Linked DNA regions of Homo sapiens: regions 2, 3 and 4 are each reported to be linked to region 1. Evidence: microRNA targets listed by miRTarBase, many of them from high-throughput screens and not tested one by one. Region 1 holds a microRNA gene; each other region holds the end of a gene's coding sequence.
The links. The annotated mature microRNA hsa-miR-3926 reads UGGCCAAAAAGCAGGCAGAGA and lies in region 1 at 4,544-4,564, shown strand. An mRNA with a match to its seed (bases 2 to 7 or 8) in the 3' UTR can be bound and repressed. Matches are read on the target gene's strand: a 7mer-m8 pairs with bases 2 to 8, a 7mer-A1 pairs with bases 2 to 7 and ends in A, and an 8mer does both.

Region 1 (7,985 bases):
CTGTGTCACACAGCTGTTGGAAGAATTAATAGTGAAGTATCTGCCTGATGAACTGTCTGAGAGAAAAAAAATATATGATGAAGAAACTGCTGAACTCTCACAGTAAGTTTCTTCTCATAAAAAAAATTATGAACTACTACCCTTTAATAGTAAGGAAAAACCTCACCGCAAGCTGGATCCTGTCTTTAGTTCATCTCAGTCTAGTCAAGAAGTATTGGTCTGTTTCCGTGGTCCTCAACAGACAGAATCTTATAAAAGTTCACTTGGTAACATCCGGATGTTTTATAGGGAGTTATTGACTCAGCTCTGTGGGCTGAAGCAGTATTTTGGGCGGGGGAGGAATTTCCTACAGTGCCATCAGGCAGTGGAATGGGAAATAGAGAGGGGGCGCTGGTGACAGTGACATTGGTGGTGATGGCGGCTCTCATGTGTCGTGGTAGGGCAAGAGGAAGGTTGAGGGTCAGTAGCCTAGATTAGCAGGGGATTTTCTGTCACATGGAGGCCCGGAAGGGGGCTTTCCAAACTTTGAGATCTGAGATTGAAATTGGAAGAGGGGTGTTCAGGGCCAAATCCTCAATTAATGAAGATACTGACTGGGAGCACAACTGAGTTGGTGTCGGGAGGGTGAAAATCTCGGAGGCAACTTTGGGATTCGGTAAGGCAGGCCACTCTGCAAAGAACACAGCAGCTGATGGAGCTGGGTAGGCAGGGCCAGGCATTGCTTGTTGTCCCTTTTCTGTTTTTCTTTCCCGTTTTTCTCCCTTTCTTTTCCCTAAATGTCTTTCCCTCTTGTGCAGTCACTTGGGTCTCTTTAAATTTTATTAACGGGTTTTTAATTTCTTTATTTCTTTTACTCTCTTTTAATTGAACACACTAAAAAACAAAATTATAATTTGTATATGCTGTTTTATTTAACAACTTTTTGTTTCCATTGATTTTCAAAATATAAATTGAACATTTTGTATGTCACTTTCTAAGAAAAGCTGTGCTTGTAGACTCCTTTATCAACATGTGCCCATCAGATGTCTTCAGTGAGCCAGGTGCCTTCCACAGAAGAAAGATTTCCACTCTTTATAGAAATAGATATTGATTTGTCTTCTCACAGAATTGATATTTTATTGTGTGGTTTATAAAATGATATGACAATTATGAACCTTTCTGATCAGTGCTGAAGCATCTAGATTTAAGAAAACTGCATTTCTGCTTTTGAAAATTTAAACATGGTGACACAACCAGCCAGCCCACGGAAGAGTGGTAGACTCAAAGGACAGAGGAGGGAGACACACAGAGAGCTGCGCATTGGAGAGAAGAGAAGCGACAGGGTGTCCAGCTGCTTACTAATGGGGCTGTTTCTTAAAACACATATTTTAAACATGTTTCACCTTATGTTTATATAAGTAATTGATGGTCATTTTGAAAAAAACTCAAAAATACAAATGAGCTTTTAAAAAAAGCCATAATCTGCAACTCAAAGGGAATCAACTATTGGCATTTTGGCATACATATTTCCAAACTTGAATGTAGTATGTATAAATAGGCTTTAAACAAAGATGGGATCATGTTATTCATGATCAGTATCTAAAACCTGCTCCTCTCATTAATATAAGCATTTCTTCTAATTCAGTTCATACACATCATCTTTTAATGGAAACATAGTATTCCGTTTTATGGATGTACCATAATTGATCTTACTAGTCTCCTCTTTATGATTCTACAATTTGGTTACTATCCACATTGCTACAGTGAACATTCATATAGCACTTGCCTGCTTATGTCTGAAAATAAGCTGGTTGGTTCCAAGAACATGAACATTTCCTGCCAACAACGTAAGGTTTCTGCTGTCTGTAGCCATGTTCTTTAGCGTGCCTGTGCTGTTTCAGAGTGCCCCCATGCTGCCATTTTTCCCATACCTCAGACAGAACTGGGCATTGCCTTTATCCTTCTCTTTCTTTCTACCAATCTGGCAATGAAAAATGTTATATCATTTTAATTACTTGGAAAAAATGTTATCTCATCAAAATATGTTTTCTTATCCTTGCGTTTGAAAATAATGGCTGAGAATTTTTAAGTATTTGCTCTTTGTTGTGGGAGTTCACTTTTTCTTGTTATCTAAGAGTAACTATGAGTGTTTGGGATAAAAGGTATTTATTGTCATGTTATAAATATTTAAAACAGATTTTAATATAAAATATTACTTATAATAAATTCTCTTGATTCATAAACATACTTAGCTCTGTAAGATAATCTGGTGTCTTAAAATTCAGTTTACTCTTATAAATAAGAGGATCACAGCAGATTTTCAGTATTAATATTTCATCAGTGTGAGCTTAGTGAACGGGGTGCTGATTCTTGTTCTTGCCAAGAATAAAAACCACCTTATTTAGAACTAATTCTTTTTTTGCTTTACATTAGTTCATTACTGTTATAAACCTCACTCATTTTTTGTATGTGTTCGGTAATATTTTTCTTGTATGAATTCTAATAATTAAACTGTTTTTCCCTTAGCTTGACCAAGAATGTTCCAATATTTGTTTGCACTATGGCCTACCCCACTGTGCCTTGCCCTCTCCATGTATTTGAGCCAAGATACAGATTGATGATTCGAAGAAGTATACAGACTGGAACCAAACAGTTTGGCATGTGTGTCAGTGATACACAAAATAGGTATGCTTTTTGTGAACCTAAATATTTGTATTTATGTTAGACCTCTCAATATGGATGAGAACTTGCATGTTTATGTTTCAACTTTGTTACTAATCAAGGTTTTCTTTTAGTTTTGCAGATTATGGTTGTATGTTACAAATTAGAAACGTGCATTTCTTACCGGACGGAAGGTCTGTGGTTGATACAGTTGGAGGAAAGCGGTTTAGGGTTTTAAAAAGAGGAATGAAAGATGGATATTGCACTGCCGACATTGAATATCTGGAAGATGTTAAGGTATTTTAAAATGTGCTTTGCCAGCATACTTTCGTATATCCTGTTCCAGGGATTGGTACAGGCATGCAGGCTATTTTCTAGGTGCATGAACCAGTTCTTATCAGACAGCCTTACCACTGTGATGAGAATGTGCTCCAAGTTACCTTTTTCGTATCTTGCTCTGAAACTGTTGCACATTCTAAGAGAACTTGGAAGACTAGAACATAGATTCTCTTTATTTCTGCAGGCTTAACAACCAGCCCAGTGCCTAGAATGTATGTGTATATGTACACATGTGCATGTGTGTATACACGTGATAGGTACTTAACAATAGTGGTTGAATAAGTTGAACTTCCAACCCATCTAAGTTTTGAAAGGTTTACATTTCTGCCCTGTTTTATTGAATGTATTAGTAGTTGAAGCCGATGGAATTAGTAGATTGAAATTTGATGTAAATGTAAACACATCAAATCTTATAAGAATTGTTTTATATATTAAGATTGTTCTTGTGCCTAAGATAACCTTAATGATAAAATAGAGTTGAATGCTGTGTGAAGACCCTGGGGCAGACATAGAAAGCACTGCCAGTGTACATGTTGGTGATATCTTAACAGGGTAGGGTTTTTGTGATGTCTTTCTAGAATAGGGTTAATGTGGCCCTTTTGATGTTTGCAATACCCAGTTTACCTACTGCAGTTAGTTTAGGAACCGGAAAAGTGACTTATGATGCTACAAATACCAAATTGAAGGCAATTTCTTTTGGAAAGGCATTATAAAAACATAGATCTTATCCCTTCTCTTATTCATTGATCTGTTTAGGCCCTTCATTTCGTCAGCATTTATTGGATATTGGCATTAGGTATTTTCACAAACATTAACTCATAGAATTTTCACAACTCTATGAAATAGTAGATGAGGAAAGTACAATTCAGAGGTGTTAATTAATTTGCCTGAGAGCCTATAGATAATGTAACAAAAATGATTAAAGCAAACTGTCTGACTCAGACTTTGAGCTTTATCACTATGCCATTTGGCTCTCTGTTGATAAACCTGATTAGTCTGACGTTGGCAGTCCTATCTTATTATAAAAATGCTATGGGGGTACTTTGTCTTGTGCAGTTGGCCGAAAGTATTGTGTGAGTTGAAATTTTGAGTTGATTGATAGAATCTGTGCCTTAGGCATACTTGGTTAATGGAATCACTTGCTAAAGGTTCTTCTTTGTAAAGTTAATAACCATATTTCAGTTTTGTGTAAATTTATGTCTTCACTTATTGGATTTGATGACAAAATCACTTGAGTATATGGCTAAATTACATGACTATATGTATTAATACTTACAAACATGTAGGCAATAGAATCACATTCTAAAAGTATTACAGATATGATATTTATAAACGAGTCCTCTTTGGTCCTCGGAATGTCTAGTAATCTTTTCTCATCATGTCTTCATCTATATAATGATTTTCTTGTCCATTCTGGAAAACCTTCTCAAATTTGTTTTATATGGCAAATTTTCCTCTTCTTATAATAATTCTGTTTTCTGTGACTTCTAATGAAATTTTAAGTTCTGTTAAAATTATCACAGTAAAGTTCCTTGACTTTAAAAGCTTGCTTTTAAAATGGAGCTGGCCAAAAAGCAGGCAGAGACTTTAAAAGCGTCTCTGCCTGCTTTTTGGCCAGCTCCGTTTTTCATCACTGACGCTTATAATTGTTATCATTCCTTGTTTACCAGAGCCTGTCATTTGTTTTCTTGAATTTTGTGAGGGTGCAGAGCAGATGCTTTAAAAAAAAAAAAAAAAAAGATTTAACAAGGCATAAGTTTGTTTCTTGCTCCTATCAATGTATGTTAGCAGGGGCCTGAATCATGTATAGTCATTTCAGGACCAAAATTCTTCAATTGTGTGGCTCCTCTACCTTTTTTAAAAGTTTATTTTTATTGTGGTAAAATATACATAGAATTTACCATTTTAACCATCTTTGAGTGCACACAGTGGCATTAAGTACATTCACATTGTTATGCAAAAAACAGATGCTCTTTAAACTTTAGTTTTCATTTCAAATCTTTCAAAAGTAAAAAGTTTGCTTTTTTGTCTCTGGTGTGCTGTAGTCTTATTTTTATATTTCGAAATGTTTTCAGAGTCCCTTTGTTGTTTTTAAATGAGTCATCCTTGAAGTATGAAAGGCTGAGTCAGGCCTGGTATTTTTTCAGATGAGTTTGTGCATATGAGACAGAGCACGACCTGGCAAGTAGCAAGTGGGATGTAAGTGTGCATTAAAGAAATCAGTATAAGATGGATGAGTTAAACTTAGATCTTCCCACCTGTGTTCTCTGAGACTACTCTTCTATCTCAGGCTGGAAGCCTGATGCAATTAATTTTACATTTGCAGTTTGGTGACCCAGTAGTCTAAAGAATACACTGAGGGGTTCCAGAGGTAGCCATAGCCTTGGGCCTTGCCAGCAGAAGCTCATCATTGTGTAATTGACTCTCTGACATACTGGCTTTATATGCTAACTTATTTGTTGTAGCTTTTTGTTTGTTTTTGTGTTTTGACCCAGTTCCCTAGTAAAAGATGTAACTGTGCCTGGACTCCTCCTGTTACTACTTTCTGTCATGTCATCTACACCCTAACTACTTATCTTTTCTTTTTTTGTAGCAACTATCATCCACTTTTTTGTTCCACTGCTTTCAAAAACCATTGATCCATAAAGACAAATGGAATTCCAAATTAGACCTCTGAACCAGAACTCACTCTCAATCTTACTCTTCCCACTTGAGGGCTGTTGTAGGGTTCTGCAATATTGCACTGCTAAGTCAGCAAGGTTAGGCATAGGTCAGGCCTTGTTGTCTTTCTTTAGTCTGGTCAGCCCTATATGAGACAGAAATGTGTATTAAAGCATAGGAATAATACTCTCTGGGACGTCAGCACTGAAACAGGTATTGCCCTGTTCTTCTGATCCCTTTTTCCATTTGTGTCGGTTGGCATATGGCATATGGACGGGGGATTAGACACAGAAGTCTTACTGACTATTGTATTTCTAGGTTGAGAATGAAGATGAGATTAAGAATCTCAGAGAGCTTCATGATTTGGTTTACTCTCAAGCCTGCAGCTGGTTTCAGAATTTAAGAGACAGATTTCGAAGCCAAATTCTTCAGCATTTCGGATCAATGCCCGAGAGGGAGGAAAACCTTCAGGTATGGTGGCTTTTCTGTTCTTCCAAAAGTCACTTTTTTATAAACCCAAATTTGCACACTTCTACATTTGTTTTCTCATTGTCCTTTCTGCACTACTTTTTCTTTGACTGTCCCCTCCCCCGCACCAGCCCCACCTCATCTTTGCAATCATGAGTTCTCTAGAGCAGTGGTCTCCACTACATTCCGTACAGATAGAGGCTGGAAATACGTGTCAGCTGAGATGCCTGTAGGAGAGAGTGCCAGAAAGGGAGCAAGTCCTTAAGAGGATTTTTAGGAGTGGGTAAGGAATTAAAAACGGGATGTTACTATCTAGAAACTGTGACTGTGGGACAACTAACCATGCCTTTGAGCCCATCGCCTGTTGCTGTTATTCTTTGACAGCAGAGAGACTTACCATTTTCTATACATTTGAAACATCTTTTCTCACCTTTCTTTGTATCTCCCAACATTTGACCCAACCACTTCAATTCATTTTTGTCTCTTCATGTTTAATACCTCGCTTCTCATGAAACTATTATTCTTTTAGTCTTGCAGGTACTTAGGGTTTACACTTAAGCTTAGTCTAATGAATGTGTATCTGGCACTTTCTGTGCAAGCAAAACTGCAGGAGGCATAAAAGAAGGGTCTGGCTCCTGGAAAATCTGATCATAGACTTACTAAAGCACTACGTTTTAGGCATCGTAGCATTTTGAATTGAACTAAATGTTTTTGATCAGAAGGTGATAGATTTTACAAAGGAATGGCTGTCAGTAAATATGTGAAGATGGAGAGATAATAGATCTCATTGTAATGCACACTGCCTCATTCCCGTTTTCAAGGGTTGGTCTACATTTGTCTGAATCCCAATTGAATCCTTCACCTGAACTTGAAACACCAACATTAGGCCATCTCCAAATTTAGTATTCATTCTGTTTAGCATATTATCAGTTGCCATCTATTTGTTTTAACTGATTACTTGAATCTGATTAAACATCACAGAAATGGGCTTTGATAAGAACAATATTGAATAAGAAATTTTAAATAACAAAACAGCTTATAGAAAAATTCAGCATAACTTTTCCATCACCTTCACCACCCTTGCCTTTTATTATCCTGTCCTGTATCACTGCTTTCTGTTAGCAGTGTTGTGTGAGTTAGGATTTGGGCAGGAAAGCAAAAGCAACCACCCGTCATTTTCCCAGAATGAAGGGTTTGACGTAGGATGTAGACTTTGTATAGTAGTTGGGAGAGCTGTGGGAGTGAAGGTCAGGGATGTCACCTACAGAAGTCAGGGAATCTGCCACCAGAGATCCTGCATCAGAAACAGCCAACAGCGTGCTTCTGAAGAACTAGTGGGGAAGTGGCTATAATTCTTAGGAATCCCAGCAAGTCTGCACCACTGTCTCAGTCTACAGCAGTGGAGAAAGGGGTTTCCAGGAGCTCTCTGGAAAGTTCCTGCCCACACTTTGCAACAATCTTCAGAGGATAATGGCTTCTCTTCCAGCTTCCACACCCAACAAGAGTGCCTTTCATCGGCCAACTCTAACCTGGAACCCTATGGCAGAGGGGATTTTAGAAGACAGTTTGTAATGTCTGTGGAATGCAGATGAAGAGGTAGCAATGCTTAGTTGACAGCGGACAATACACAAATATAGAAACCGAATCTGATTCTAGAGGGGCCTACTGAGATCAGCACTGATGTCGTAGCTCCTTTTGTCATTCTGAAGCTTTATATTTTAAGTCCGATAAATAGCAATTTAAGGTTCAGTGAAGGTGGCTTACAAGTCCTTTTATGGAAATTTCTAGTTGTTTCAATAGCCAATAGTCAGCCCTCACAGCATTACCAGGACCTTTTCACTGGAGATATGTTTCTTTTTTGAACAACATTGGAAGCT
Region 2 (8,080 bases), not on the chromosome of region 1:
CTGATTCTGTCACTGCTTTGCTTAAGATCCCTCAATGGCATGATACTGTCTTCTGATAAAATGCCAAACTCCTCAGCTTCCCATAGGAGGCCTCCTCCGTGTTGGCCTGCCCACCTCCCACCTCCTGTGCCACTACAGCCCCAGCGCTGATTGACCGGCTCACTGCCTGTGCCACCACACCCCCACCCGCTGATTGGCTGGCTCACCTCCTGTGCCGCCACAGCGCCACCGCTGATTGGCCGGCTCACCCCCTGTGCCGCCACAGCACCACCAGTGATTGGCAGGCTCACCTGTGCCACCACACCCCCACCCGCTGATTGGCCAGCTCACCTCCTGTGCCACCACACCCCCCCACCCGCTGATTGGCCACCTCAACTGTGCCACCACACCCCCACCGGCTGATTGGCTGGCTCACCTCCTGTGCCGCCACAGCGCCACCGCTGATTGGCCGGCTCACCCCCTGTGCCGCCACAGCACCACCAGTGATTGGCAGGCTCACCTGTGCCACCACACCCCCACCCGCTGATTGGCCAGCTCACCTCCTGTGCCACCACACCCCCCCCCCACCCGCTGATTGGCCACCTCAACTGTGCCACCACACCCCCACCGGCTGATTGGCTGGCTCACCTCCTGTGCCGCCACAGCGCCACCGCTGATTGGCCGGCTCACCATGCTTGCAGTCCTTAGGCTGCGCCACTCTCCCGCTTCCTCTCCTAGCTCTGTCCTCTGCCTGGGCCTTTATCTCAGTGTGGTGGTCTTTTAGATGGTTTTCCTCATCGCCCTGCTTTGTCCGTGGGTTTTCTATGACTGTGTGGGTGCTTCTTTTACATCAGTTACTGATACTGTAGCCATCTGTTTAATACCACCCCACTACACTGTGCGTTCCTTGGGGTTGGGGACTTTCATTATCTTTGCATCTTCTGCGCAGTGTCTGGCACGTGTGAATGGGAGATGTTGAAGGGATGCATAAAATATCTTCAGCACTAGCAGGAGTGACTCCTATAGTCGCTGTGCTGGATGCTGTCAGAGAGAGGCAGAAGGTCCCATCCCTCAAGAAAGCTATCATAGAAGAACTGGTTTATCTCCTGATCCAAAATTGATCAGACTTACTCCACAGTCCCCTGGTCTGGGAAGATTTGTAACATCTTGATTGTTTCCTTTTTATTTTCCAGGCTGTGTGGATGCCTGGGAGCCCAAAGTGCTCCGGGCGGGTATGGGCGCACATTTCCGGATGCCCATTATCAATAATCTGGAATGGGAAACCGTGCCCAATTACCTGCCCCCTGACACTCGGGTCTATGTGGCTGACAACTGTGGCCTTTATGCCCAGGCTGAGATGTCTAATAAAGCTAGTGACCATGGCTGGGTGTGTGATCAACGAGTGATGAAGTTTCACAAGTATGAGGAAGAGGAAGATGTAGAAACCGGAGCCAGTCAAGATTGGCTGCCTCATGTTGAGGTTCAGAGTTACGACTCGGACTGGACAGAGGCGCCGGCAGCTGTGGTGATTGGCGGGGAGACCTACGGCGTGAGCCTGGAGTCCCTGCAGCTGGCCGAGAGCACTGGTGGCAAGAGGCTGCTGATCCCCGTTGTGCCTGGTGTGGACAGCCTCAACTCGGCCATGGCGGCAAGCATCCTGCTTTTCGAAGGGAAAAGACAGCTGCGGGGGAGGGCGGAGGACTTGAGCAGGGACAGGAGTTACCACTGAGGACGCAGAAGTGACTTCTGCTTGAGGACGTCTGCAGCTCCTCCTACACCAGCACACTGGTGGGAGGCTGGCGGAGTCAGTGACTATGGCCCCCACGTTCAGGAGGAAGGTGTGATGCCGTCATACAGTTACAGGAAAAATAAGAACTTCCTCAGAAAGAACAGGTCCGAATTCTTCCTGTCGCGTCACTGATTTTGAGGTTCTTTTTTCTCTTGGTGACAATAGGTGACCCACGTGGCTCTGTGTGTTTTTAAAAATTGTCCACCAAGAAGCACTTTGTGCCCAGAAAGTTCCTGAAGCATCATCCTGGCAGGGAGGCGCCTGCTCCACCAGCTGGTGGGTGTTTGTAATCGCCAAGCACCAGCTATAGGTCACAGCCACATCACTCACAGCTGATCACTGGTTGGTGGAAAATAAACTATGAGCAGCAGATTACGTTAGTAAGTTGTTTTGTGTCGTTGGTGTGTCACAGTACCTGTCACGTTTGGCCTGGTAACGAGGACGTGGCTAAGGGAACACCAGGAAGCTGAGGGCTACGCTCATGGCATCCAGCAGCTCTGCTCTGGGCTCAGATGGTCTGTCTTTGAGATTGTTCAGGGCTTCACTGAGCCACTGTTTATGTATCCATAGAAACGGCTTAATTCAACAGGCCATGTCAGACCTTCTTGGCACCTCTGCAGATACCTTTTTGAGGACTTTGCAGAGACGGAAGTCTATGCGGAAAACTGAATTTCAAAATCGGCAGCCTCACCCTGCATGTGTCAGGAAAGTGTCACTGTTTCCTGGTTCCCTGTGTTAGTCCTACTTACGTCTCATCCCCCAATGTTTAGAGGCCAAGGTTCTGAGAATGAACGCCCACAATACAGCGGCAGGACCCTTCTGTTCTCTCAGCCCCTCCAGGGCCCAGGGCAAGCTGGATCTTTACCTACTAGCGGCCAAACCAGGATGTAGCCAGGGTGTCAGGGCAAGTGCTGATGGTCATCAATGTATCTATAAGGAACTGTGGGGATGGGGTGGGTGGGTGGAATATGGGACTCTTAAGCACTGCTGGCCAGGTGCGGTGGCTCACGCCTGTAATCCCAGCACCTCGGGAGGCCGGGCGCAGTGGCTCACGCCTGTAATCCCAGCACCTCGGGAGGCCGGGCGCAGTGGCTCACGCCTGTAATCCCAGCACTTTGGGAGGCCAAGGCGGCGGATCACAAGGTCAGGAGATCGAGACCGTCCTGGCTAACACGGTGAAATCCTGTCTTCACTAAAAAAATACACAAAATTAGCCAGGCGTGGTGGCAGGTGCTACTCGGGAGGCTGAGGCAGGAGAATGGCGTGAACCCGGGAGGCGGAGCTTGCAGTGAGCCGAGATCGCGCCACTGCACGCCAGCCTGGGCGACAGAGCGAGACTCCGTCTCAAAAAAAAAAAAAAAAGCACTGCTTTTGCAGCCACACAGAGTTGGAGTTGAAGACAACACAGGAAGCGTTTCCCCACACCCCTCTGCCCAGCGGCTCCCGTAATGGTTTGGACACTGCTCACTCCAGGGAGGTCAAGTGTGTTGCTGGTGTGCCCAGGAGAAACCTTCTTTCTCTTCTACTCCCCCAACTTCCTAGTCAAACTCCCTCTTCCTAGTAAAACCAAATGACCAAGCATGATTCACGTGCCAAGGGGCAGGTTGGGATTGCTCTCCCCTGGGGGAGGGGTGTTTGCAGGGACAGTGTCCTCCCAGGCTGACATCTGAATATTTGAACATCTGCTCTGGAGCCCCACTGTGGTCTGGGCCTGCCCAGAGCTCCACATGAATGGGCAATGCAAGTGTCCCCCCAACACTGCTCCCAAAGGCTGGTGCAGAGAGGACAGGCGGAAAGGCGGCCTGGAGAATGCAAATCCATCCCACTCCAGTCTCCCCAGACACCTCAGGACAGTGCTCAAGCAGCAGGAGTCACGAAAAGGAAGCTCACATCTTTCCAGCCTAAAACCAATCTCGTGGGATTTGTTCCCCGGGTTATACTCCCACTGACTCGTTACAAAATAACAGTGAAAGAATAAACCATGTATTACCTTGTCCTTGTTTAGAAAAAGCAATGTAAACACTGGAAAGTAATTTTTTTTTTTTTTTTTGAGACGGAATCTCACTCTGTCGCCCAGGCTGGAGTGCAGTGGCGCGATCTCGGCTCACTGCAAGCTCTGCCTCCCGGGTTCCCGCCATTCTCCTGCCTCAGCCTCCCGAGTAGCACCTGCCACCAAGCCTGGCTAATTTTGTGTGTTTTTTTAGTGAAGAAAGGATTTCACCGTGTTAGCCAGGACGGTCTCGATCTCCTGACCTTGTGATCCGCCGCCTTGGCCTCCCAAAGTGCTGGGATTACAGGCGTGAGCCACTGCGCCCGGCTAATTTTTTGTATTTTTAGTAGAGACGGGGTTTCACCATGTTAGCCAGGATGGTCTTGATCTCCTGACCTCGTGATCCACCCGCCTCGGCCTCCCAAAGTGCTGGGATTACAGGCGTGAGCCACAGTGCCCGGCCAACACTGACAAGTAATTCTAAGCCCATTTTATCCTGGGTGTGAGAGGGAAAAGAAATTTACATCCCTTTGCTTTAGAGTCCGTGGCTTATATGCCACGGTGCCTTCAGTTCACTTTATATATTCATGGGTATAATTTAGTAGGGACGAGGGAGGGTGCAGGAGGGAGGCAAATTGTCCTTTCTTCAGTGAATACAGGGGAACAGATGGTTGTTATTTGCTGAGTGATTCTGGAAAATCACTACCTTGAATTCTCAGTTTTGAGTCTGACATTTGTTCTGTCACCATTTCCCCAGTAAACAGGAATAAAAAACGAGCCACATTTGACAAGGAAAACACTGCTTGGCCGAGAGACAAACATTGTCAGGATGTTGGCCACGCTCCCGCGCCTTTGTGTGGTGGCGTAGCTGTCACAGTGGCGTCTGCCAGGAGGTGGCAGGCGACACCTCCAAAACCACCCCAGTGCTGAAGGGCGGGGCTGCGATTTTTTCCTGGATTTAAATCGTTGAAAAGGGAGGAAAAGAGGATGGAGTGAAGTCTCCCTCCACCAGAGAGCATTTTGCAAGCTGTCTGTGCTCCGGGGTGTTAAAGCCGGAGACCCATCCAGATTGTCCCAGACCACCTCAGAAGAAAGAACCCGGAGTACAGGAAGACATGGGAACAAAAACGGAGGCGAAAGAGGACGAACGGGAAATAGCAGGAAAGACCGTCACAACTTTTCCCTGTGACTGCAGCCTCTGAGAAAAGCAACTCTGGGCAAAGCATAGGTGTCCAGATGTGCCTGGAGCTCACGCTGGGTGCCCACCGGCTGGCCCTTCGGTTCCTGCTTCGGGGCAGAGAGCGTTGAAATCACTCTCCCCTCGCCCCAGCCGCTGGCTCCTGGCTGGGAGCCTGGTCATTAAGGTCCAGAGGAGAAACAGACCTCTGGGGACCTGCCGTTCACCTGGGACCTTCCGCTGCTTGCCCCGGGGTTGACAGCAACCCCAGATGTCCGCACCAGCCACGCTGGGCCACACTTAGCCCCACTTTTGCCATTCTACCACGCACAGCCCTCACACACACTCCCCATCCAAGGTTCCAGGGCTCTGGGCTGAAAATCACCAGCTGTACTGCAGGGCCTGGGGCTGCCCTCTTGACCAAGCTACCTCTCCCTCAGGAGCAGAGCTGACAGGCTCACCTGTTTTTAAGAAAACATGTTGCCACCTTAAAAATTCCATGATTGTGTTTCCTCTGTTTTCTTTTTTTTTTTTTAGATGGGGTTTTGCCACGTTGCCTAGGCTAGTCTTGAACTCCCGGCCTCAAGCTATCCTCCTGCTTCAGCCTCGAAAGTGCTGGGATGCCAGGCGTGAGCCCCTGCGCCCGCCATGTTTCCTGTTTTCATCAGTGCAGGGAGTGCACACATGTAATAAGCTAGGAGCCAAGTTAGTGGATGAGCTGGTTTATTGCTCAGGATGACTGAAGTCTCAACTACGGAACCATGTTACATTCGAGCAGCTGAGACAGCAGCTGAAGCCAGGTCCTCCCGAAGCTTCAGGAAGCCTGCTTGATGCTCCACGGCTGAGAGTGACAGAGAATCCAGAATAGCTTATGGATGGGTCAGTTCTCGTCTCACCACACTCCCAATATCCAGCTTCCTGGACTGTTGTGTAGGGAAGAGCCACTTTTTTCAGTTGAAGTCTGAGTTCTTATGGGCCATGACCAAGGCTGCTGCTTCCTCAAAAGGCACGAAGGGGGCCGCGTGCGGTGGCTCACGCCTGTAATCCCAGCACTTTGGGAGGCCAAGGCGGGCGGATCACGAGGTCAGGAGTTTGAGATCAGCCTGGCAAACATGGCGACACCCTGTCTCTACTAAAAATACAAACATTAGCCCGGCGTGGTGGCGTGTGCCTGTAGTCCCAGCTACTTGGGAGGCTGAGACAGGAGACTTGCTTGAATGTGGGAGGCGGAGGTTGCAGTGAGTCAGATCGTGCCACTGCACTCCAGCCTGGGTGACAAAAGTGAAACTCTTGTCTTTAAAAAAAAAAAAAAGAAATGCAGGAAGGGAACAGGGAACAAGGCTGGGGAGGGAGGAGCCGACGGCTGCAGCAAGCTCCGGCCTCAGCCTCCCTTCCCTGCTCCTCTGAGATGCCGAGGGCGGGGCGTACTCACTGCAAGCCTGCCAAGTAGGACCTCCATGTCCTCTGACATTCGAGAGATGGATTTTTTGGCCCTGAGATCACGTCTCCTACTGTGTCGTCATTCTAGCACCTGTGGGTGACTTCCTCATGTGAGTGAGGCATAAGCACCCGGAATCCGGACTGGAGGCCGTCTCTGCCTCTGGATTGCACACTGGCCTACAGACCTGGGGACAGAGTCTTTCACGAGTTGTGTATCGTTTAACAGAAACCCAACAGTTCCACCCAAACCTCCTGACACATTCTCGGGCTTGGGAAGTGTCCCAAAGCACCAAGGGGGTGAGACACACGCCTTGAAAAATGGCAGTAGGCATACTTACCTGTCTTCATGCGCTCACATACGAGGTGTACCTAGAACGCCCTCATGTTATATTCCCAGCACTAATGAAGCTACTGGTCAACAGCTATTTGTTCCCAAAGAATTTTCCCTTGCGCAGCCGCAGCCTGGAGGAAGCAGGGCGTGTGCCCTCGTCTGCTGGCGGCAGCAGTGAGGGGTGTAGCCAAGTGCCCACTTCTCTCATTCAGCTGCTTCGGGGCAAACTGGAAAGATCCTTTGAGCTCACAGCCCCCTGCTCAGTGCTACTCCTGAACCTGCGGGCCTGTGTGCACAGCCACCCACAGCGCGCACAACACATGGGCCTGCCCAGGGCAACGGCACCGTCAACAGCGTGTGCCCTCGCTCAGGGCCCTGCTGGTACTACGCTTCCCAGTGTGCAGGGTTCCCAGACGTGTGTCCTCTCATACATTGCATTTCCTCCCTAAGCTGCACGGGGCAACACCGTGTTAGGTCCCGCGCATCTGCTCCTGGGCCACATCCGGCTCCGTCTGTATTGTTCCTGAATTCAGTTTGCTGTCCTAGAACAAGGCAGCAGGAGGGGAGAACAGCTTTTCAGTGTCTTTAATTAGGCAACAGGAAAAAACAAAGTCTGGCTGAAAATTACTATTTGAAGCTTGGCCGATGCCAACACAGCACTCGCTCCCTGCGTTCTGGTAAGTGATGGCCATTGATTTCAAGGACGTACCAAGGGGCGAAAAGCAAGAGCAGGAAGTCACCTCGCTCTGGAAAAGAAGCTGGTTTTCATCTGCTGTATGTGCTGGTCCCAAACATACCCTTTTCTCTTTTTTTAGTATTTTTTTTCCCAATTAGGAATTCAATGTGGAAAACATACCCTTTTTCTTCAACAGGCTTTTAATGTTGGGAAGACAGGTTAAAAAAAACAACAACAACAGGCTGGCTGTGCCGGCGCACGCCTGGAATCCCAGCACTGTGGGAGGCCAAGGCAGGCAGATCACCTGAGGTCAGGAGTTCGAGACCAGCCTGGCCAACATGGCGAAACCCCGTCTCTACTAAAAATACAAAAATTAGTCAGGCGCGGTGGTGTCGCTTGTAATCTCAGCTACTTGGGAGACTGAGGCAGGAGAATGGCTTGAACCTGTGAGCTGGGATCGTGCCACTGCACTCTAGCCGGGGCGACAGAGCGAGACTCTGTCTCAAAAAAAAAAAAAAAAAAAAACCCTCATCGCTGTTGTGAGGATGAATGGATGGGATCTGGAAGTCACTGTGGTAAACACAAATCTGGGAACCACAGAGTGGCGTTTTCACAGCCGCCCCCAGCCTCCACCTGCAGGGCCTGGTTTTCCTGGCTGCCGGAGGAAGCCCTTGAATATGCCACAGCTGGTGCTGAAC
Region 3 (7,000 bases), not on the chromosome of region 1:
ATACATTAAAGCCAACAAATTGTTTCATTTTATTACTTTCAGTTGGCAGTGGCTGCTGAAATATTTTTTTTGTGTGTGTATATGTATTTTTTGCCTTAACGCCATATACTTTATCTAATGACTTGAGAAAGATATTTCAATGCATAGGTGGGACTTTTTGCTAGTTAACTGGCTTCAGAACCATGTTTTAGTTAGCTAATGTTTTACCGCTTGGTAATATAAATAGCCACTTAGAATTCAAGTTTTCTAAGTTTCCAATTTCATATTTTCCAAAAATCAACACTTATTCTTTTAAAGACATTTTACTTCCTCCAAACATTTGAAATAGCAGTTATGACAAAAACATGATTATCTCAATAGATGCAGAAAAGGCCTTCGATAAAATTAACACCCTTTCATGCTAAAAACACTCAAAAAACTAGATATGATGGAACATATCTCAAAATAATAAGAGCTATTTATGACAAAACCACAGCCAATATCATACTGAATGGGCAAAAGCTGCAAGCATTCCCTTTGAAAACCGGCACAAGACAAGGATGCCCTCTCTCACCACTCCTATGTACTGGAAGTTCTGGCCAGGACAATCAGGCAAGAGAAAGAAAGCGTATTCAAACAGGAAGAGAGGAAGTCAAATTATCTCTGTTTGCAGATGACATAATTGTATATTTAGAAAACCCCATCATCTCAGCCCAAAAACTCCTTAAGCTGATAAGCAACTTCAGCAAAGTCTCAGGATACAAAATTAATGTGCAAAAATCACAAGCATTCCTATACACCAATAATTGACAAACAGAGAGCCAAATCGTGAGTGAACTCCCATTCACAATTGCTACAAAGAGAATTAAATACCTAGGAATACAACTTACAAGGGACGTGAAGGACCTCTTCAAGAACTACAAACCACTGCTCAAGGAAATGAGAGAGGACAGAAACAAATGGAAAAAGCATTCCATGCTCATGGATAGGAAGAATTAATATTGTGAAATAGTCATACTGCCCAAAGTAATTTATAGATTCAATGCTATTCCCATCAAGCTACCATTGACTTTCTTCACAGAATTGGAAAAAACTACTTTAAATTTCATATGGAACCAAAAAAAAAAGAGCCCATATAGCCAAGGCAATCCTAAGCAAAAAGAACGAACTATACTACAAGGCTCAGTAACCAAAACAGCATGGTACTGGTACCAAAACAGAGCTATAGACCAATGGAACAGAACACAGCCCTCAGAAATAACGCCACACTTCTACAACCATCTGATCTTTGACAAACCTGACAAAAACAAGCAATGGGGAAAGGATTCCCTATTTAATAAATGATGTTGGGAAAACAGGCTAGCCACATGTAGAAAACTGAAACTGGGACCCCTTCCTTACACCTTATATAAAAATTAAGTTGATAGATTAAAGACTTAAATGTAAGGTCTGAAACCATAAAAAACCTAGAAGAAAACCTAGGCAACACCATTCAGGACATAGGCATGGGCAAAGACTTCATGACTAGAACACCAAAAGCAATGGCAATAAAAGCCAAAACAGATAAATGGGATCTAATTAAAGAGCTTCTGCATGGCAAAAGAAACTATGATCAGAGTGAACAGGCAACCTACAGAATGGGAGAAACTTTTTGCAATCTATCCATCTGACAAAGGGCTAATATCCAGAATCTACAAGGAACTTAAATTTACAAGAAAAAAATCCCATTAAAAGTGGGCAAAGGATATGAACAGACACTTCTCAAAAGAAGACATTTAGGTGGCCAACAAAGATATGAAAAAAAGCTCATCATCAGTGGTCATTAGAGAAATGCAAATCAAAAACACAATGAGATACCATGTCACATCAGTTAGAATGGCGATCATTAAAAAGTGAGGAAACAACAGATGCTGGAGAGGATGTGGAGAAATAGGAATGCTTTTACACTGTTAGTGGGAGTGTAAATTTGTTCAACCATTGTGGAAGACAGTGTGGCGATTCCTCAAGGATCTAGAAATAGAAATACCATTTGACCCAGCAATCCCGTTACTGGGTATATACCTAAAGGATTATAAATAATTTTACTATAAAGACACATGCACACGTATGTTTATTGGAGCACTATTCACAATAGGAAACACTTGGAACCAACCAAAATGCCCATCAATGTTAGACTGGATAAAGAAACGGGCACAAACACACCATGGAATACTATGCAGCCATAAAAAAGGATGCGTTCATGTCCTTTGCAGGGACAGGGATGAAGCCGGAAACCATTATTCTCAGCAAACTAACAGGAACAGAAAACCAAACACCACATGTTGTCACTCGTAAGTGGGAGTTGAACAATGAGAACATATGGACACAGGGAGGGGAACATCAACAATGGGGCCTGTCGGCGGGGTAGGGGGCAAGGGGAAGGACAACATTAGAAGAAATAGCTAATGTAGATGACAGGTTGATGGGTGCAGCAAACCACCATGGCACATGTATACCTATGTAACAAACCTGCATGTTCTGCACATGTATTGCAGAACTTGAAGTATTAAAAAAAAAAAACAGCAGTTGCTTAATGAAGATTGTCTATCAGTTATTAACACAGACCTTTTTGGGGATGATTGCTAACTTTCAGGACCAAAGGCCACTAGGTGATGCACTCAAATGACTACTTAATGCAATCAAGTGGTTGAAAGATGCATTTCTGGAGTCCATACTGATGTAGACCAGTTTGGCGTTGAGACTTTGGCTGTATTTTTGGCTAGTTTCCATTCACAAAATATACCTAGCTGTTTACAAGGGGACTCAGTGACAGTACAAGAATCTAAGTGTAAATTCAGTGTTAAACAGAAAAATGACTCAAGCCAGTGAAACACATTTTTGTGTATGATTAGTAATTTATACTCAGCTTGGTCATTGGCCTAAATTTTGTAATTCTTACTGAAAAGAAACTGTATTAGTCTGTTTTGCATTGCAATGAAGGAATACCTGGGACTGGTTACCTTATAAAGAAAACGTTTATTTGACTTGCAGTTCTGCAGGCTGTAAAAACATGGCACCAGCATCTGCTCAGCTTCTGGTGAGGTCTCAGGGAGCTTTTACTCATGGCAGAAGGCACGGGGGGAGAAGGCATGTCACACAGAGAAGGAGCGAGAAAGAGAGGAGGTGGTGGTGCCAAGTTCCTTTTAACAACCAGCTCTTGCAGGAATAAACACAGCAGGAACTCATTACCACTGGGGAAGGCACAAAGCCATTTATGAGGGATCAGCCCCCATCACCCAAACACCTCCCACCAGGCCCCATATCCAACACTGGGGATCATATTTCAACATGAGATTTGGAGGGGACAAATACTCAAACCATATTACAAACTTCTTCACTAGAAGAATTTGGGTATATGTAAGTAAGTTTTCAGTATATGTGTAAAGTAGAATATTATCAGAAAGGTTATTTACTTTTCATCTTCATTATCAATTTTCTATAGGTATCATAAAAATTTAAAATGCATTTTGTTAATTTAATCTTTTATTATTTCTTAACAGTCACAATGGAATAAATGTGCCTACTTTAAGACATCTATCTGGTTTTGTTGGCAGATTTAAGGACTAACACTAGACTAAATATTACACAAATATTCTATTCAAATGACTTAAAAGTGCTACCCTTTTACTAAAAATTTTATCGTACTAAACATCTTTGAAATGTGTGTCCCATAGGAAATGTGTTTTTTTGATAACCGTACTTCTAAAAAAATTCCCACTTTGAGCACTGTCAGAAAACAGAGCAAATTTAAAGAAAATTTTGAGAATATAAAATTACATAAACATTTCATTTTACTTTTCCTTTATCTTAATCATATACCTTTAAATAAAAAAGCTATGAAAGACCTAAATAAAATTTGAGAAATCAGAATAGACAAACATCATTAATGCCCAAAACATAATTTATTTATTAGAGATGGGGTCTTGCTATGTTGCCCAGGCTGGATTCAAAATCCTGAGCCCAAGCAATCCCTCCTGCCTCAGCCTCTCAAGTAGATGGGACAATAGGCGCACACCACCATACCTGACTGTAAGCCACATACTTTAAATGGACCTAATTTCCAAGCCTGGCTGCCTGATAGAATGTGCTTTGGTCAGCTAGAATTGATACCATGTTAGAGGGTCAGCTGCACACAAAAATGGTGTTGCTGAGAGAAATGGCACATTATACCTGGTACTCCTTAGAGGTGCTCTATCTACTGTATCAATATAGCCATTAAAAGCTCAATCTGCCAGCTGTTTTTGAAAGACCCAATAATACTGTTATGACTATATAAGATAACCTTGATGTATGTCACTTTATGATACGTGTTTCTTAACATGACTCCCAGGGGGCCCTGGCTTAGAGCTGATTCCAAAGGCACACAGCTTAGGTCAAATTATAGGACACATAATATTTACTATTTTATTTACTGCCTAAAATGTTTCTCAACAACTAACAAGTACAGGAAACATTTATAGGTAGTAATGTAAGTACCTTATGAGCTCAATGACAAAACAGTGAATTACAGACAGTTGGAAGATGGGGACCATGTCTTAGATTCCTTTTGAACACTCCTCAGTGTCCAGTGTGGTGATATGCACATAACCAGTATATTTTAGTAAGTATTTACCCAAGTAAGACTTCTTTAGGCATTCCATTTTGGGATTCTTGTAGAAAGAAGCCAATTTTGTAGAACTCCTAGGCTTTAAACATTCGAGAATGAAAGGCTCTTGCCATTACTGATCATAATTCAAAAAGCTGGTGTTAAGTGTGACAAGTGGTGACTGTTCCATATATGCCAACAGGCATACAGCAGAATCCAGACAGAGTATATAGTAGCGAAAAAGATGGGAGAATATGAAGAACAAAGTCTATTTTAACATTAATTATGGCTATAATAACCCTTATGAGGAAATACTGGTGAGCAGGATAAAGTGATATTGAAAAGAAAAAAAGGAAAACTCCTCAAAACACAATAAAGCATATTCTAACAGGTTTTTGAAAAAGTTGCAAGCCTTTTAATTCATTGACCTCTTTTGACTGATTGGAATTTTTACCATTCTGTACACTCTGAATTATAACTAAACAACTACATGTTACTGACAAATTTGTGATTCTTTGAGTCTAAACAACACAGAAACTAGAAGATCCCTTTCCTAGATTTATATACTTGATTTTCTTATAAAAATAACTTCAGTTATTATGTCAATATTTATCTGAAAAAGGCAGCCCTCTGACAGTAAACTAGTAACTGGAATAACTACAGTATCATTATAAGCTACAGTAAAACAACCTGTAAAGTAATTTTTCCTATTTGAATAATAAATAGACTGGACAGGAGTGAAAAACCAAAACTACGAAAGAAAAACCCAATGTAAATAAAGGATACAGGTCAAAACAAAGTTCAGAAGGCAAATATGTAAATATTAGATGCCTCAAAAATCAACTATCAGTGGGAAAATTTCTATGAAAGCAATTTCAGAAAATACATGAACACATATATCTTTAAAATATAGAACTCTAAATACTTGATAACATATTTAGGATACTCTACAATGCCCAGTTAATTGCTATAATTTTTTTCCCTCAGGTTTTCCTGGATGATACGGCAAACTACAGAATTTGTGCACTTACTGTTGCTCAAATTTGTGTACTTACTGTGTGCACATATACTGCTGCACTGTTTCTCGGCTGTGAAAAATTAAAAGCATTTTTTCAACCTTTGAGAAGGAAAGAAAACAATGAAGAATCTCCTCATAATAATACAGCATAACAGGGTTTGTTTACTGTGCCACATCATGGGTGTTTTTAAAACGAAATATAAATATATGGTTAGGGATAGCATTTTTAGGAGAACAAGTGACCAAAAACTAAGTTACCTCTTTTCAGGTCAGCCAAAAAACGTGAAGGGAAAGTGGACTTTATACAACTTAGACATTTATGTAGATAGCACAGCAGACTCATGTTCAAGCCAGCCACCTGAAACATTATAAGTCCGTCGAGGGGGACAGCAATCTATGGTCCATGGACTGAATCCAGCCTACTTTTGTATGGCTCTGAGCTAAGAATCGTTTTAATATTTTTTAAAGGTTGTTAAAAGCAAATAACAAAGAATACATGATGACTCTATTCTTGTTCTCATGTGTGAACCATATATTATAGCCTGCAAAGTCTAAAATATTTATAAACCGGCCCTTTACAGAAAAAGTTTGCAGACCCTTCTTTTACACCAGTGCTGTAGATAATTCTGGCAGTACAACTGCAAGTCTAAGATAATGTTCATTCATTCCCATCATAAATGTAACATTCTAAATAGGTGTCTTCTGATGTCATCTGTCAGAATTTCTTTTAAACTTTTTCTTCATCTTCAACATTATCAAAGTTCATCCTATAATAATAATGTAAAGGCGATAGAGAAAGGAGAAAGTATGAGTTGGTAATGTTAAAAATAAGGTGAAATACCACAAACCAACATTTTACTTTTTCAGAAATACTCAATATTCTTATTTAATGGATCATGACATGAAATATACTTTGCCAAAATATAACAATAAAAAAGAAAAGAATATCCTAGTTCTTACCTGCTCACAGCAGATATTACTAACTATATAGGTTTACATAATTTCAAGCATATTGGGTATTCTCTTTAACTTAATTTCAGGTATGATATTTTAGATTATGACAATTTTTAAATTTCAAATATTTAATGAGATAAAAGTTACACCTTTCAAAATAAAATATCTTGAGAAAACTAATATAGCGAAACACTAGAAAAACATGTTTGTTCAGTGGAACCAAGAAAATACAGACTCATAACTCTTTCCTACCTTTCAGATTCGTAAAAAATATTCTTGAGGTAGGTTGTAAGGCTTTGTCTATTGGGGTCTGCAGTTTGAACTGGATTACAGTAGAACCTATTGTCTAATATGGTGCTATAAAGCCAGTCTTCTCTAGCCCTTTCCAGAGGCTGAGCTATTTTGTCCTCCTTTCGCCTCATAGG
Region 4 (8,080 bases), not on the chromosome of region 1:
AATTATTAATGTCAAACGGAAAAATAGCAACGCGGGATATTTTATTTTAGAAGTCACCACGGTCATGGAAAAAACACGGGCTCTGGAGTCAGACCCATGTATAACAATCTTTGTACAGTTAAGACTCAGTTCTATTATCTATAAAATGGGCCTTAATAATAGTACTACCTTATAGAGCTATTAGGATCAAGAGAATATTTAATCAATGATGGGTTGTGTTTGGTTGAGTGATGTGAAATTGCCAATGTTTTGGCCGTTCTGGGTCTACATCATTCCCCTTAATGGTACAGTACTTGCATACTGCTGCGGTTTCCTGTCAGGGGGAGGACTGGATTATGATCCATGGGAAGGGGAAATGGAAGAACGGTGGAAATGAGTTGCCCATGACCACACTGAGAAGAGGGAAAGAGGGACCAAGACACAAGTCTCTTGACTTCAGTCCAGCCCATTTCCCATGACCAAGATTCCTCTGATTACATGAAGGTGGGTTCTCAAAAAACCCGTAATAAAAGGACAAGGTCTTCCATGTCCACTTCACCAGAAATGTTTTATTCTTACTTTTTAGGAACTGCGGCCCCCAACTGTTATGCATATTGAATAAAGGGACAGAACAGGGATGAGGTGCCCTCCAATGCATACTTTGCAAATGTAAGAACTTTCAACATTTCCTAAGAAATCCTTTTCAACTGACAATTATTTTTTAAAGTTTTCATAATGTTCAATAATTTTATAATTGTTAAGTTTCATTAATTTGCTCCAAGGTGGTGAGGAACATGGGATGTGGCATCTGAATTGCCTGAGTCCAAATCGTGGACCCAATGCTTCCTGGCTGTGTAATTTGGACAAGTGACTGAACCTTCTGAGCCTCGGTTTCTCTCATCTGTAAACTGGGGACAATAATGGTGGTTGTGAGAAGTACAGTATGATGTGCCTGGCAGAGGGAGAGAGCAGTTGTGGGTTTTGTTGTTGTTTTTAACGAGTCCCTGATAGCCACATATCCCGTTAGGGAGATGAGCCAGCTATTGAGGGTTCTGTGAGAACTCATAGCAACACCACCCTAATCAGAGGAAAGGGGAAGGAGAAAGGGAAACAAGATCCTTGGGCTGATCAGAGGCAGAGGTGGCAATGGCACAACACCTATTGGGGCCCAAGGTGGGCAGGGGCCACACCACGAAGGCTGTGGTTGGGAATCAAGTTTAGCCCATAAAGCAGTAGGCAATCAAATGATCAAATTTATGCTTTCCTCTATTCAAGCCATTCTCCCTTATGCCTGAGATCTCTCTCTGGAATTCCAAACCGATCTAGATCTTTCCAAGCATCACAATGGCCATTTCAGTGGCAGACATTTCTGGGGTTCAAATATCTTGTTATCTATCCTTTATTAGCTTTGTTTATACTGTGATTGGGGGAAAGGGGACGTGTCGGTCTTTACATGATTAAAATTACTTAAAATGACTTTTATACATCAGTATGAATGTTATATTGTTTTAAATAATCAGCAGAAAAATCTGACTGGGGATGTTTTATTTTTCTGTAACTTCCATTTGTTGTTGTTTTGATGCACTTTCCTTCTCCTATTAATTCCATAAAGGAGGCAGTATTTCCAGGCTTCACAGAGCAGAAGATGGAGGCTCACAGACTCACCTGAGGTTACAGAAGTAGTAAATGGTAGCAGGCCTTTTTGCTCCAAAGCATGTGCTCTTTCAGTATCACTTCCTGGGGGTGAGGGTTCAGACCATGTTAGGATCAGGGAATGGCCTGGGTTTCTGTGGCTTGCTGCAGACAGCTCCCAAGTGGCCCTCAAGGACTGCCTGGACATGGAAAGGCCAGGAGCATATGACCCCATGTGAAAGACCCATCTGCACCCTTCCTGGAGCCTAATGCAGAGACAGGGATGTAAAACTGCTTTTTCTCTGACATGAGCCTTTGTTCTGTACATAATAACCAAGAACCAGAAGTTGCTCCTATGCTCTCAAAGCAGTGATTTGCAATTGCATGACAGAGCCCCCTGGGTTCCACACCACCTCTGTGGGGAGAGGGCAGGCACTCACACTTTTAAAATGCCCCTTAGATGATTTCAATTTGCAGTCGGGGCTGAGAACCAGTGTCCTGAACTCACTCAGTTTATTTGGGAGACTCCCAAAATGTGTATTTGCAGAGCCCCCTTTCGGGGAGAGTGCTGTTGGATGCCCCTGGAAGATTATGGCAGCTCTCTAAGGAACATAGCCATAGTCCACGCCCACCACTCTTGGTCACAAGGGCAGAAGAAGGGAGGAGGGGTCTGCTGGGAGGTCAGGACTTCTTTGAGATGATCTGTCCAGTTGGGTGCAGCACAGCCACCATGGGCTCACCCAGAGTGCTCAGGGGATACAGCACTGGCTGGGCCATGGAGAGACACTGTGTAAAAGGGAGCTGTCAGCCCCCTTGTACTTCCAGAGCCTGAAGAGTTTCAGAATCCAGCCTGGGGGCGGTGGGGTGACATCTCCCTTCCTGTTGGCTGCAGGGTGAGCCGATATCACTCCACTCATGGTGGTTCTCTTTACAGCTGACTTATCCTAACTCAGAACTGCTGACACTTTACACTTTGTAAACCTATGGTTTTTACATTATTCCTTGTGATTCTTTTTTTCCTAATAACTCGTTCACTAGGAAAAATCCCAGAGGCTCTCAGCTCTATTCTGAGAAATAGGTCAAACAACTGAAACCCTATGAGTAAAGCAGAGAGGCGTGTCAAACCAGATTGCCAAGACAGCTCAGCCGTTTTCCCTGTGAGCTCCTGCTCCATCCCCCCACCTCTGTTCTCCTTCTGGTGAGGCACAAGGGCTGGGTTTGGTGGGTGAGGTCCCCAGCTATAATTACTGACATCAGCTTTGCGGTCCCAAGGAATCCACTCCCCTGTTATCAGAGCTATGGGCAATTAGAAATGCCCAGTGCCACACCAGAACCCTGGGCTAAAAGTCAGAACCTGAAGAAGCCAAACTGGTGCTTAGGATAGAGGGGGTGCGGACTCAAGAAAGAGAAGACCGAGGGATGGGCTCATGAGCTCCAGCCCCTGAGACTGCCACTCCCTGGCTCCCAGAAACTGCTAGATCTAGATATAATGGGCTCAGATGAGGAGACAATGAAAATGTGCTAAGGACCAAGAAGGGCACAGAAAGGCCTCTGAACCCTTGGGTGGGCACAAATGGAGGTGCGACTGGCACCAGAGGCTGTTCTGAGAGATGTGCCCGCCAGTCAACCAGGGCCAGAGACAGGCAGAAGGGGCCCCCAGGCAGACAGCAGCATGGAAGAAACCATGGCCTCCAAAGTGTGTATGTGGCGGGGCGAGGGTGTGGTTGACGAAATGACAGGAGACCAGGACCAAGGTCATCTTGGCTCTTGTACAGCCCTGACTCATCAGTGCTCATAAAGCTGCACTCTGGTGAAATTTTGTTGGAGTCTTAGAAGAAATCAGGATAGGTTTATGGCCAAATTATTTTATTAGTGACTCAGAAAGAGGATTTTCCCTTTTACTGGGCTAATACACCACACCTGAGGAGTTGGGGTAGTTACCAGATCAGGTTTATATTGTATAAACTGCAGACCACCACCAGTTCTGCTAGGTGCTGTTTCAGTAAATTAAGATAGTATCGATGAGAAGATGCTGTTTTACATACCATTAAGAAGGAAAACTGGCTGCAAATTATCTTAAGGTACCATTGATTGATTAAAAGATGAATCCTGATCTGACATGTTAAAATGTTTGAGGCTGATGCAGAAGGCAGTTTCCTCTCCACAAACCTCATGGGTGTGCAGAATGGTGTAGACACAGAGATGGGTGCCTCACTTACCTCATGCACAGACTGGCTTTTCCACCACAGGGCAGGCACTGTATAAGCACCTTCCATTCCTACACAGGCGCTAGTAGGGGGAACTAAGGCTTGGAGAAGCCAAGTAACTTTGCTAAAGGGTCATATAATTAGTAGGAAGTAAGGCTGAGGTTCAAAACCAGGCCGGACATCCAATGTGCTGAAGCAAGCTACACCTCATCTCACAAGAGAGGCGAAGACACGCTTGTTCCTTGTCCCAAGCACTCTTCAGGCCCATTTCCTCCAAGATGGTACTTGCTTGGTTTGACACTTTCATCAAACAGGACCCCTTGTGAGCACACGGCCATGCTCTGGTGAGCAGCCTGCCGCCCTGTCCACCTTTCTGGGTGGCTCTCTCTCTACTAAGCTTGGCTCCAAGGACATGACCGTCCAGTAGCCCCATGGCAAATTCTGGGGCTTCTCAGACCTGAAGGTGAGCATTTTGAGCTCCAGATATGAAAGGCAAGTCCTGGGTGTTGTGTTCATTGGAATCCTAAGAGCAGCACTGACTGGAGGGCTAAAGGCAAGGCCCATCCACAGTTCACAGACTTGAAACATCAACCCTTCAAAAAGGGTGGGAGGAGGCTGGGTACGGTGGCTCACTCCTGTAATCCCAGCACTTTGGGAGGCTGAGGCAGGTGGATCACTTGAGGCCAGAAGTGTGAGACCAGCCTGGCCAACGTGGTGAAACCCTGTCTGTACTAAAAATACAAAAATTATTTGTATTTTTGTGATGGTGGGCGCCTGTAGTCCCAGCTACTTGGGAGGCTGAGAATCACTGGAACCCAGGAGGTGGAGGTTGCAGTGAGATCGCGCCACTGCATTCCAGCCCAGGCAACAGAGCAGGAAAATGAAAAAGGGAAAGGTTTTCCTAAACTTATTACTAAGAGACCAGGTTTGCAGAGAACCAGGCTCCTGGAACGCAGGAGGCAACAGTTTGGATGTCCCGGGAGCAGCAGGTGGAGCATCTGGGGAATCCAGAAATCCACAGCAGGCAGCCTGCCAGGCATCTCCAGAAGAGGGACCAGGAAGCCTTTTGTTCAAGAAAGGATTCCAGTCTAGAAGGCTGGTGAGCTCCCGAGAGCTAAAGGCTCCCTTGCTGTGTCTAGTGAAAGGAGGACAAGAAACATGGTAGGAGCTCTTGGGGAAGGGCCTGGTTTCTCTGAAGTCAAGAAACACAAAGAGAAAGAGGCTCCAAGGTCTAAGCAAGGCCCAGAGGATCAAGCAGAGCTTCCTAGAGCTGGTGAAAGGGCTCAGGTGGGGTTCTGAGGCCCAGTGAGGTGACACTGGCCTCTGGGAAGGGCCAGCACAGGCAAGGACTCCAGCGGGAAAACTGACAGGGCAGAACTACCAAGTCCTTGGCCAAGCCTCTGGTTCGAATGGTGGCAAGTGGGCTGTGGATGAGGTCGGGGAGGATGTAAGAGGAGGCGCTGGCACTGACATGGCTGCCCAGGGGTGAGCCCAGAAGCCATGGGAGTCTGGAGAGGATGAGAGGAAGAGATGCAGGGCTGGGCGTGACAGCACCACCCTTCATCCGCTCCAGCTCTGCCCATCCAGGTGTAAGCTCTGGGGCAGGGGATTACCTGCTCTAGGCTTCCTTTTCCTCAACTGTGAAATGGGGTGACAGTGGAAAGACCTCAGAGTTACTGTGAAGGTATTTAGTTTTAATCCCCAGTAACAGCCTGAAGAATGGCTCCTGCCTTAAAGAGAGGGAACAGGATGGCTTTTTTAAGTGGTGCATCTCTGTGCTATCTACCATTCCAGATACTGCCTGTACCGTACACCCTCCTCAGACAGATGCTGCTATCCTCTTTGAGAAACAGGAGAATTAAGGCACAGAGAGGCAGAACCTGCCCATTACCATCACTTGTGCACTCATTCATTTAACAGACATTTATTAAGCGTCTACAATGTGCCAGGCCCTGGGGACACAGAGCTGGAGAATGTACAGTCCCTGCCCTCAAGGAGCTCACAGTCTGGGGGGACAGACATGTAAACACATGAGTTACAACGCGCTGCGTGAAGTGTGTGGCAGAGGTATAACAAAGTGCTGTGGGGCACAACAGAGCGACCAGTGAACTCTTCCTGGGCAGGGGTCAGGGAAGCCTTCACAGATCAGTCAATAAATACGGTGCCATGGGAGTGCCTTGCACACCACGGGCACTCACATCTTGAATGCTGGTCCACTGGAGGCCCTTGGGTTGGGCGGGAGCAAGGCCTACTTCTGCTTCCTCAGGACAACTTCCCCACCTCTGTCCTGGGACCACCTGCCCGCCTGGGCCTGCAGTGACTAAGGACGCTGCTCCCACTCCAGGGGCCAGTGACAGAGAGCAGCTATACAGAGGGCCCACCCCGCAGGATCCTTGACAGGAGCTGAGACAGAACAAACTGCTGCTTGTCTCCCTACCCTGGGGGCTGTGATATTCTTGGTAACATCTCTGAGCTGGTCTGTGAGGTCACTTCCTCTTTTAACACTGTTGAGGAGACTCCAAACCCTGTCTTTTCCTCGTCTTCTCATGTCGATTGGGCACCAGCCATTCTCAGGCACCAGAGCACAGCCCCACACGGGTGCCCCATCAGACAGGGCTGCCCACAGCAGCCTCCTACACCTGAACTGGGTTTCTCTGCACACTCACAGCCGTCTCACCAGCTCAATGAGCTGCTGGATGTTTTTGTTTTGGTTCGACAAGCCGTTCCTGATGTTTTCGAGTAGGCATCTCTTCAATTCAAATATGGCTTCACTGTAGGCCAAGCTCACTGCGGCCATGGGAGGTGCTCCGTGCCACAGGCCTGGGATGTGCCAGATGTGCTGCTTCTCAGGGTCGCAGAAGGCCAGGCCTGCCAGTGCCCGGAAGCCGTCGCCCTGTTTCTCCATCTGGGCTGCAGCCCTGCTCAGGTCACCAGGTGGATCCAGGAGCTGTCTCTTGTCTCTGGGCCTAGGGCCGGGAACAGATACATCATGAAGGTTCTGGTATACAAACTGGTAGTTGGGCATGTGCCCCGTTTTTTCTAACCTCAGAAATGCATGCAGAATAGCTGCTGGAATGTCCTTGGTTTCAGCTAGACTGATCACGGTGACATTGCTCAGTCCCATGAGCAGAGTGGCCAAGGAAGCCTCCAGCTCAAATCTGTCCCCAGCTGACGTCAAGGCCCCACCTATCAAGCCCCCGGAGTCTATCACCAGGATGTGGTCACAGCCCAGGTCCTGGCTGAAGCCCTCAGCCACTGTGATGAGCTGCATGAAGGCCCCTCGAGGACCGCAGCTCTTCCCTGTGGCAAACCGCAGCCCAAACATGGTGTTGAGGAGTGTGGACTTGCCCGTGCCTGGCACCCCGACGGTTGACAGAACCACCAGCCTTGACCGTCTCTCCAGTCGGACGTGCAGCTCCTTCAGGAGCCCTGTGACCCAGCGGACGGGCATGCTCAGCGTGCTCCCATCGATTAGCTCCAGAGGCAGCCCTGTCAGCAGCAGCTCCGAGGCCAAGCCTGGGAAGTGGGCAAAACGCCTCTGGCCTGCCGGCAGCCTCCCTGCCTCCACAAGACAGCTCTCAGCCTCATAAAACTGTCCCATCTCCCGCAAGAAGTGTTCCACCCCTAGGGGCTCAGGCCAGAGCGGCTCCCCCACGTCTGTGGTGCCCCCATGCTTTGGTCTCAGGGTGAGAAGCGTCTCCGGAGGCTGTCTCAGTCGCGGCTGGGCCACCCGTGCCAGGCCCCACTCCATCCACCTCAGGAAGTACTGCTTCTCACTCAAGGAGGGGCTGCTGATCCCCGAGATGAACTCCTGCACCCCCGAGGAGGGATCATGGCCGTTCTGCTGCATTCGAAGTTCTAGCAGCCGCCGCCTCAGCTCAGCCCTGTGCTTCTCAGGGGGGTCCACGGCCCACTGGAGCTGGCAGAACTCCTTCTCCACTTGGGCTGCCTTTCTCCAGGGGTCCCCCTGCAGCCTCAGCTCGTCCCTTCTGTAGGCATCCGAGTCTTTGATTTTCCTGGTAATCCTCTCCATCCGGTCTTTCGCTTTCTGACACTCCTCACAGTCCTCGTCGACCTTTAGGCCCAGTTTGCGGGCTGCGTGCGCCATGTCCTCCACAGATACCCGCCTGCAGGGTGCCCGCAGCACATTCCCAACGATGGCCCGGATCCTCTTCACGAAGCTGTCGCTGTCAGTGCTGCTGACCTTTACCAGGACATGTGAGTGGTCTATTTTCAGCACAGGAATTAACTTATTCAGAAAT

Region 2: miRTarBase lists MRM3 as a target of hsa-miR-3926. The part of its 3' UTR that is shown has no 7-base or 8-base seed match.
Region 3: miRTarBase lists DNAJC10 as a target of hsa-miR-3926. Seed matches in the 3' UTR shown: 7mer-A1 at 1,760-1,766.
Region 4: miRTarBase lists URGCP as a target of hsa-miR-3926. The part of its 3' UTR that is shown has no 7-base or 8-base seed match.

The regions. Positions count from the first base shown.
Region 1 is chr8:12,723,853-12,731,837 of GRCh38, reverse strand. MIR3926-1 (microRNA 3926-1) reads left to right here and starts at 4,534; the gene lies at 4,534-4,606. LONRF1 (LON peptidase N-terminal domain and ring finger 1) reads left to right here. Exons shown (of 12, transcript NM_152271.5): 8 at 1-102; 9 at 2,506-2,664; 10 at 2,775-2,937; 11 at 5,959-6,111. MIR3926-2 (microRNA 3926-2) reads right to left here and starts at 4,601; the gene lies at 4,539-4,601. RefSeq lists an enhancer at 4,987-5,036.
Region 2 is chr17:790,362-798,441 of GRCh38, forward strand. It overlaps MRM3 (mitochondrial rRNA methyltransferase 3), which reads left to right. Exons shown (of 4, transcript NM_018146.4): 4 at 1,173-2,148. The coding sequence ends at 1,708. Among named protein-coding and RNA genes, the nearest start is that of MRM3, 12 kb to the left of the region's middle. RefSeq lists an enhancer at 508-802.
Region 3 is chr2:182,776,509-182,783,508 of GRCh38, reverse strand. It overlaps DNAJC10 (DnaJ heat shock protein family (Hsp40) member C10), which reads right to left. Exons shown (of 24, transcript NM_018981.4): 24 at 1-6,388. The coding sequence ends at 6,377. Among named protein-coding and RNA genes, the nearest start is that of DNAJC10, 64 kb to the right of the region's middle.
Region 4 is chr7:43,870,187-43,878,266 of GRCh38, forward strand. URGCP (upregulator of cell proliferation) reads right to left here. Exons shown (of 6, transcript NM_001077663.3): 6 at 5,727-8,080. The coding sequence ends at 6,481. The region is part of intron 4 of URGCP-MRPS24 (URGCP-MRPS24 readthrough); the gene reads right to left. It overlaps LOC124901620 (a long non-coding RNA gene), which reads left to right. Exons shown (of 2, transcript XR_007060296.1): 1 at 1-648; 2 at 762-1,456. Among named protein-coding and RNA genes, the nearest start is that of MRPS24, 4.7 kb to the left of the region's middle. RefSeq lists a silencer at 1,730-1,905.